Regions from separate parts of the Homo sapiens genome. Here all the other regions are linked to region 2. Evidence: fine-mapped expression QTL. A gene starts in region 2. Each other region holds a variant in brackets. All regions are shown on one strand. Distances are between the middles of the regions.

Region 1 (2,765 bases), 62 kb before region 2:
CTGGAGACAGGGCTAGGAATGAAAGAACTCTTTGTTCTCACGCACCAGTGTGTGGGGCAGGGGGACGGGAAAGGTAGTAGACTTACCATTCTCAAGTGCTTGTGTTACTGCGTGGTTGTATTAGGTGCTTTGAGAGTTCTCTCTCATTTATCTTCACAATAACTCTAAGTGGAAAATCAAGCTCAGAGGTCCTAAGTCTCATGCCCCAAATTCCACAGCATAGAAATGATAGACCTGGTATTCAAACCTACTGGTGTCTGGCTCTTGTCCTTTCCTTTTCTATTTTTTTTTTTTTTTTTTTTTGAGACAGAGTTTTGCTCTTTTGCCCAGGCTGGAGCGAAGTGGAGCGATCTCGGCTCACTGCAACCTCTGCCCCCCGGGTTCAAGTAATTCTCCTGCCTCAGCCTCTCGAGTAGCTGGGATTACAGGTGCGTGCCACCACACCCGGCTAATTTTTGTATTTTTAGTAAAGACGGGGTTTCACCATCTTGGCCAGGCTGGTCCTGAACTCCTGACCTCACCTGCCTTGGCTTCCCAAAGTGCTAGGATTACAGGCATGAGCCACTGTGCCCAGCCGCTTTTGCCCTTTTCTTACTCATTACTGTCCCTGAAGGACAGGACAAGGAATGCACACGGACAGTTTTTGCATCTTCAATGCCAATTATAACATGGTCTCAATAAATAGTTATTAGAGGAGTGAAAGAAGGAAGAAAGGATTCAAGGAAGAAAGGAGGGAGGAACAAGGATACTTAGTGAAGAAAATACAGAAGATAGCAGAAAAACCATCAGGGCATCCTTAACCAAAGGTAGAACCATGCAAGAGTCCGATCAAATTATATTTGTTTTTCTCATGATGAAGACCTTCTCATTCTTTGCCTTAGCTCAGCAAATTTTTGTTGTTGTCTATATCATTTATTTCATTACAAATTGCAATTTGATGATTTTCTAGTTACCACATTTCTTTTATATGTATTAGCTGGAATGCTTCTGAAAAAAAAATCTTTGTATTATCAACTAATACTTTTGGTTACCTTGAAAATCTTTTTGGAAGTGAAAAGCATAAAAAGTTTAGAATGATCATGCTTTCAAGGTGATTGGGATCAGAAAAATGTTTTATTCTTGATCTTTGGAGCAAGCATAACCACCATCACTTCAAGTACACTGGCCACGACCCAACAGTTACTCCACGTCTCTGACTAAG[A/C]CTTCAGGATTCTTAGAACAAAAACCACAGAAACTTGGGCATTTTCCTAAATATGTCTTAGGTTTTGAGCCATTGCCAGACATGTTAAATTATTTAATGTAATTCATAGAGAGTATATAATTATGAACTTGGCAAAGCTAGAAGAGATAAGTAAACAGAGAGAGTTTTTAATATAATATACTCTCTGATAGTGAGCTATCTCACATTCTGCAATATATTTATAGAGAGGAGCGCCACACCTTCATAACTACATAGCAGGACACATGTACCCTGGTCAGGCAGTTTCTCCTTCTCAGTCTAACCTTGCATGTCACAAATTGAAGCTAACAATTTCATATGATTCCTCCATCTCATCTCTACCCTCAGCCCCAAAGGAGTCTCCCATGTTCCCAAGACAGGAATTGGAATATCTAGATAATAGGGGAGGCCCATTGAAGAGTTATTTCAGACAGATTTCCTGTCAGGCACTGGATTTGCTCACATGCCTGGTCAGATTATTTTCCTTAATCAGTGTTTTCAATTTGTGGGAAAAGAAAACCAGTGTCAGCAAATTGCCAATGGAGATGTTCTTTTGAATTACTTACTAAGGATCGTTTGATTAGAGCAGAAGCAATGGACCCTGTGAAATATATGTTCTGGAAACCAATTTTGTTGTGGAGACTTTTTCCAGTTGAGTTGCTGTTTGTGTGTAGATAGTTCTTACTGGAACACAACCAAAATATTTTTAACACCCTGTTAATTCTAAGACAACACTTCTCAATGTTGCATATATAAAGATTTGGTGGAATATGTACTCTTAAACCTGTAGAAACATATCTATGACTTTTTCCTTTTACATTTTCTCTTGAAACTCTTATAGTTTAAAAATGCCAACATAAATGATTTCTATGTATATATATATCCATTAAAATAATTATGTACTTGTAACTTATTTTTTCTAAATATCTGCTTTCAACAGAGAACAAACTAACTTCATTTACTTTTTTCCCTGATCTTTTATAACATAAACCATTACTTGAATTAATTAAAATAATGGCTATATTCTATTATAGGTATTAAAAAGAAGTTTTTTTGGGTATGAAATATTTTGAGATTTGTTATTTAAATTATGATCTATTCATAGGATGGGATAGTATCCAACCATTGATAATGATAATAATAATAGCTCATAAATATAGTGCTTACTTTGTGCCAGATGTAATACATGCTTTACATATAGTAACTTATTTACTTATCACAGCAACCTTTTGAATTGAGAAAACTGAGGTACAGAAAGGATAAGGGACTTGCGTAATGTCACACAATAGGTAAATCACACATTGGGACCTAAATCCAGGTAGTTCGGCTCCAAAGTCCGGGGGTAAAACACTTCATCATGTTGCTTCCCATTTGAAATCACATTGCAGATAAATGAGGACCCCTATAAATATGTTTACAATCTACTGTTAAGGGAACAAAGCAGTATTGGACCAATTGTATTACATACACTGATATGTGTGTATCAGTTGTGATATATACATCTACATATGTATATATATTTTGGATATATGTATGTATACGTGTA
Region 2 (2,765 bases):
ACGTGACAACTGCGGATCAGGCATCTGAACCCGGCCTATCTTTCCACCGTATCTTCCTACACTTTTCTTTATGTACTTTTTATTTCTACCAGATGGTATTACTCCTTGTTTCTTGAATAACAGTGTCATGCCTTTCCAACCTCTGTATGTTTGCTCACAAGTTTCCCTCTGTCAGAGAAAAGCAAAAACAACAAAAAAGTCCTCTATTTTATCTTTTTCCAAACATAACCAATCCTTCAAGTCCTATCTCTAGTACTGTTCCTTTATGAACCCTGTCAGACAATATCTCATTTTCTTCTGAATGTTCATAGCATTTACTTAAAAATAGTATGACTTCCCTCTTCTTTTTACTAATGAATTACTGTGTATTTTTTAAGTTTCCTTCTACATCTGAAGTTCTAAATATTCTTAGTACAAATGTCCTACTGATCTAAGAGAGTATCATGGGTTAAATGTAGAGGAAGAGAAGTTTCTGAGATGGCAGGAAGGCAAAAGTTTCTGTGACTACCTGTGCTTATATTGCTGACTTTCTTAACTGTTCCTGACTTATTTAAATGTATTTTTTTCCTGATTCTGATTAATGTTCACTATGAGGCAAGCACAGTAGGCAAGACTGGGAGAAAGTTTGCAAATGTGATGAGCTTACAAATGGGACCAGATTAGATGGTGTACTTGGGGGAGATATAAAAGAGGAAGATAACCATGAATTGAACTGAATTGAAAATGGATCACATAAAGATCATGATTAATTGTTAATTCACAATGGAACAGCATGATGGGATTTTTTTAAGTCAGAAAGGTGACTAAAAGCATAATATCACAACACACACAACGGTAACAAATATAACTAAATGCACTGAACCAGGCAGAAGCCAGACCTTACTGAAAAGATGTAAAATCTCTGTAACCATAAAACTGCATCTGCAAATGAGTAGATTGGCTTCAAATCTGAAAACCAGGACAAGAGAGTCATCAGCGCAGATGTCAACTTCCCCAGCAGAAATGTTGGAGTTTTTAACTGTGGAAAACTACAGTTTTTCCACACCAGTGCATAGTGGAGAAGACATGTTTTTGTTTTTCTTTTTAAGTGTGCCAAATTTTCCTGGAGTCCCCTCCAATTTTTTTCTTTCTCTCTCTCTCTCTCTTTTTTTTTTTTTGTCCCCTGCCCCTAGGTCTCTGTCTCCACACAGTGATTTCTGTTATGGCGATTGGGCGGCTGCAGAGACCAGGACTCAGTTCCCCTGCCCTAGTCTGAGCCTAGTGGGTGGGACTCAGCTCAGAGTCAGTTTTCCAGAAGCAGGTTTCAGTGCAGAGTTTTCCTACACTTTTCCTGCGCTAGAGCAGCGAGCAGCCTGGAACAGACCCAGGCGGAGGACACCTGTGGGGGAGGGAGCGCCTGGAGGAGCTTAGAGACCCCAGCCGGGCGTGATCTCACCATGGTGCGTTTTGGCTGCTACTTTCTTTTTCAGTCTTTCGGTGCGGAGAAGGGGAGGAGGCGGGCAGAGGTCTGAAAAAATCGAATGCCTTATGGAAAGGAACTGCAAGGGTTCCTTTGGGGTGATCAAAGAGGGAGACACAGACACAGAGAGACAAAGGCAAGGAGGACTGTCTGGGAGCCACGCGGGCGATACAGTTTCCGAGGCACGCCGCGTCCCGCCTAGCCTGTTGAACAGGTAGACATGAGCGACCCAAGCGTAAGTGCCGCTGCCGCGAGTGCCCAGGGTGCACTCGCGCGGGGACCGACAGGTGCCACTGCAGGGTCCCCTCTCCCGCTCACTGCCTGCCACCCCTGACGCCTGCTCTCTTTCTCCATTCGCAGTGCGGATTTGCGAGGCGCGCCCTGGAGCTGCTAGAGATCCGGAAGCACAGCCCCGAGGTGTGCGAAGCCACCAAGTAAGTGGTCGCTGCATCCCCACGCGGGTCGGGGTTCTTCAGACAGGCGGTCCCTCTTCCGGGACCCCCGCTTGGGCTGGGTCTCCTTCCTCTCCTGAGAAACCTTCGGTACGCTCCCAGTTGCCCAGCCCTGGGAAGCCAGCATCGGGTTCCCACGCTGGGGAGGAGCGAGAGGAAAGGAGAGGACGCCCGAGGGGCCGGCCCAGGGCCCGGGGGACCCGCGGCGCCCGAGGGAGGAGCACAGACGGGGGTGGGCGCCGAGCAGCGCCGCGCCGGCTGCTGAGCTCGCGGGGCCGGGCCGTGAGAACGCGCGGGGCGCGCCGGGGCCGCTGGTCTCCCACGGCCAGGGCGCCTGGGCCCCAGAGCCCATCAGCCGCGTGCAGCGCTGCGGCCTCCGGCGCGCCGGCAGGCAAGCGAGCGGGCGCAGCTGGGGGATGCCTGGACCCCGGAGGCAGCAGGGCTGGAGGCGGTGGCGGGCTTCAGGGCAACTTCACCCGGCCGGCTGCGGCGTGGGTAAGAGGCGCGTCCTCCTCCACAGCAAAAGCTGCGATCGCTGGGCTGCCCAGAGAAGGCAGCCGGCTAACTGCCCAGCGGCTCCACGAGGTGTGCGCGTGTGTGCGAGAGAGACAAATGATTTACTGCTTAGCAGTCCCATTTCTGTTTTCGTTAGGACTGCGGCTCTTGGAGAAAGCGTGAGCAGGGGGCCACCGCGGTCTCCGCGCCTGTCTGCACCCTGTCGCCTGAGCTGCCTGACAGTGACAATGGTGTGAGGGGCTGCGTTGCAATGTGGTCATGTGATTTCAGGCTATGGATTTCGTGCGTCTTTCTCTGCTCACTGATTTTCACATGGTTATTCTTTCATTTTGCACTCG
Region 3 (2,765 bases), 200 kb before region 2:
TAAGGCAGTCTCCCTCAGAGTTTTCACTAAAGTTAGAGTTATAGAGATGCTTTGAGTACCAGTTATTTATGCTTCTCTGTCTTTCTTCATCAATAATTATGTATGTCTATATTTAATATTAATGAAGGTGTATAGTTTCATTTCCCTTTTTTTTGGAGAAAAAGTCTTACTTTGTCACCCAGGCTGGAGTGCAGTAGTGGCTCAACCCTGGCTCACTACAACCTCCACCTCCCAGGCTCAAGTGATCCTCCTACCTCAGCCTCCTGAGTAGCTGGGACTACAGGCACATGGCACCATGCCTGGCCAATTTTTTGTATTTTTGGTAGAGATGGGGTTTCACCATGTTGCCCAGGCTGGGCTCGAACTCCTGAGCTCAAGCAATCCACCTGCCTCGGCCTCCCAAAGTGCTGGAATTACAGGTGTGAGCCACCACGCCCAGCCTGAAGGTGTGTAATTTCTACAAGGACCAGAAAATGATGCATCCAGCCTATTGGGTGGTTGTATCCAAGACTATGCTATTTCAATCAGTGGAATTATTGTTTAGGGTCTTCAGAACTCTTAAACACGTCAATAAACTTGAAGATAAATACAACATTAAAATGAATTATAAAATTTTTATCCTTTTTCATTCATTCAAGTACTTATTGTCTACTTACTTTGGGATAATTACTGTCATAGGCACTACAGATCAAATATAGATTTTTTTTTAAAGACATGGTCTCTGCTCTCAAGGAGCTGACAGTCTAATAAAATTCAGAGGCCCCCATGGCTAGGAATCAAGCTTGTCAGACTGCTTGGTTAGCTTTTTAGTTCGTGTTTTGGGGAATTATCTTAATACTTTGGCTATATCAAGGCTTAGTTAGAAGAGGTATCTTGGAGCAGGAAAAGTAAACAAGACTGAATTCAGTGCATTTATTTTATAATTTACCAAGGTCTAGCCCTACCAATATTCTCACTACTGTCTTTGCCCTAAAGTTGGTCAGAAGATATTAAAAGCCAGAGGATAGAAATATATACATATACATGTATAGAGCTGTACTCTACTCAGGACACAATTGTAAGAGGATATCATTCCATCTGTAAAACTATTTTCTTCAGAAAAGCAAGACAACACATTCACTGAAGGTCTTTGACATAAAAAAGAAGTCCTCTAAGGAAAGTTTGATGGTCTGTAATATTTTTATTCACTGTTTGAAAGCTATTATAGCAGTCCCAAACAGGTCCCAAAAGGAGGGGGAACAACGACTTAAGTATCACCATTGCTACAGCAGAGACACATATGA[A/G]TACCACTCGCAGTATTTAGCCTAAAAAACCATGGCATGTGTTTCTTCCCTCTCTAGCCCCGCCCATGTCCACCTCTTCTTTGTGGCTATCAATCTTCCTTAATGCAATCATTTAGGTAAAATGAGCTGCTTTGCAGCTCCACATGTTGGTGTTTACAGCTCTTTATGAGCCAATAGGATAAATATCTATGGACATTGCAATATCTCTGCTTGGATGGACGTTGATGATATTGAAGAAAACGGTAAGTTACTGAGGGGAAATCAATCATGTGTACATATATGTTGATGTCTTGCTGAAGTGAAATCATTAGGCAAGAAGTGAATAAACACCAGGACTCCCTTTATGCTTCTAGACTTTGCATAAAATGAAGCAGGGTGATAATAATGGCAGTAGTAGTGGCCAGGAAGAAGGGAAGAAGGAAAGATCAGACAATGGTTTTAACAAGACAAGCAACAGTTTCAAAGAGAGCATATGCTTACTCAAGGGGGAATTATTGTTAGGTTTGGATTCCAGGCAAAAAAATTATCTTCCCTCCAAAAGGCTGTGGAATAATCATAAACACCTCCATCCTCTCCTCTCACACCATCTCAATGCAGAGACTCTGTTCTTGGGAACCTGGGAAGCCTGCAACCCAGGCTCTCCAAATATTGGGCTTCAAGAAACACAGGACCTCTTGAAATTATAGTCAAAATATGTGTGTGTGAATGTGCATTTTCCACTGAAAAGGTTTATAACTTTCATTAACTTCTCACAAAACACTCTGAGTCTCAAAGTTCAAAACTACTGCTATTGATAAAACATTGCTTTCAGAGAACACACATATAAAAAGGATTCAGTAGGGATCAGGAGTAGTACAATATTACCTAACCTGATATTTTCAGAATATAATTTCCACATAAATCACTGGATAAAGAGAAATTACTTAGAGACTGCCCTTTGCACAAAACATAAACAACTCCTTAAACTCCATACTAAGAGTTCTGAAGCTGGAAGTAGTTACCTTAGAGCAGTGGTCATGAGATGAGCAATTTGGAGCCTAGAAAATTAGATTTAAAGTTGCCAGATCACTGAGTCCCTTAGTGGCTCTTCATTTTTGTGGTGTCGTTTTTTTTTTCTTTTTTGAGACAGAGTTTCACTCAGTCGCCCTGGCTGGAGTGCAATGGCTTGATCTCGGCTCACTGCAACCCCCTCCTCCTGGGGTCAAGTGATTCTCCCACCTCAGCCTCCCGAGTAGCTGGGATTAAAGGCATCCACCAACATGCCCGACTAATTTTTGTATTTTTAGTAGTAACAGGGTTTCACCATGTTGGGCAGGCTTGTCTTGAACTCCTGACCTCAGGTGATCCACCCACCTCAGCCTCCCAAAGTGCTGGGATTACAGGTGTGAGTGACCATGCCTGGCCATTTTTGTGTTTTAAGGTATCATTTGTTGGGCACCTACCATATGCCAGTAATTGAACTGGACACTATATGTACATTAA

Which allele goes with the higher level. Alleles are on the strand shown, and positions count from the first base shown. SD is a standard deviation of normalised expression in the study named.
With allele A in place of C in region 1, the expression in fibroblasts of the gene that starts at base 1,322 in region 2 is lower (moderate effect, 0.45 SD a copy in GTEx).
In carriers of allele G in region 3, the expression in aorta of the gene that starts at base 1,322 in region 2 tends to be lower than with A alone (small effect, 0.39 SD a copy in GTEx).

What was found. PIP is the estimated chance that this variant, and not a neighbour inherited with it, causes the effect.
Region 1: its variant is fine-mapped to the expression of GUCY1A1 in fibroblasts (GTEx, PIP above 0.99).
Region 3: its variant is fine-mapped to the expression of GUCY1A1 in aorta (GTEx, PIP above 0.99).

What each region holds. Positions count from the first base shown.
Region 1 is chr4:155,603,661-155,606,425 of GRCh38, forward strand. No RefSeq gene overlaps it. Among named protein-coding and RNA genes, the nearest start is that of GUCY1A1, 62 kb to the right of the region's middle. The variant A/C (reference allele first, on the strand shown) is at 1,202.
Region 2 is chr4:155,665,527-155,668,291 of GRCh38, forward strand. It overlaps GUCY1A1 (guanylate cyclase 1 soluble subunit alpha 1), which reads left to right and starts at 1,322. Exons shown (of 10, transcript NM_001130682.3): 1 at 1,322-1,439; 2 at 1,820-1,893.
Region 3 is chr4:155,468,872-155,471,636 of GRCh38, forward strand. No RefSeq gene overlaps it. Among named protein-coding and RNA genes, the nearest start is that of MAP9, 93 kb to the left of the region's middle. The variant A/G (reference allele first, on the strand shown) is at 1,284.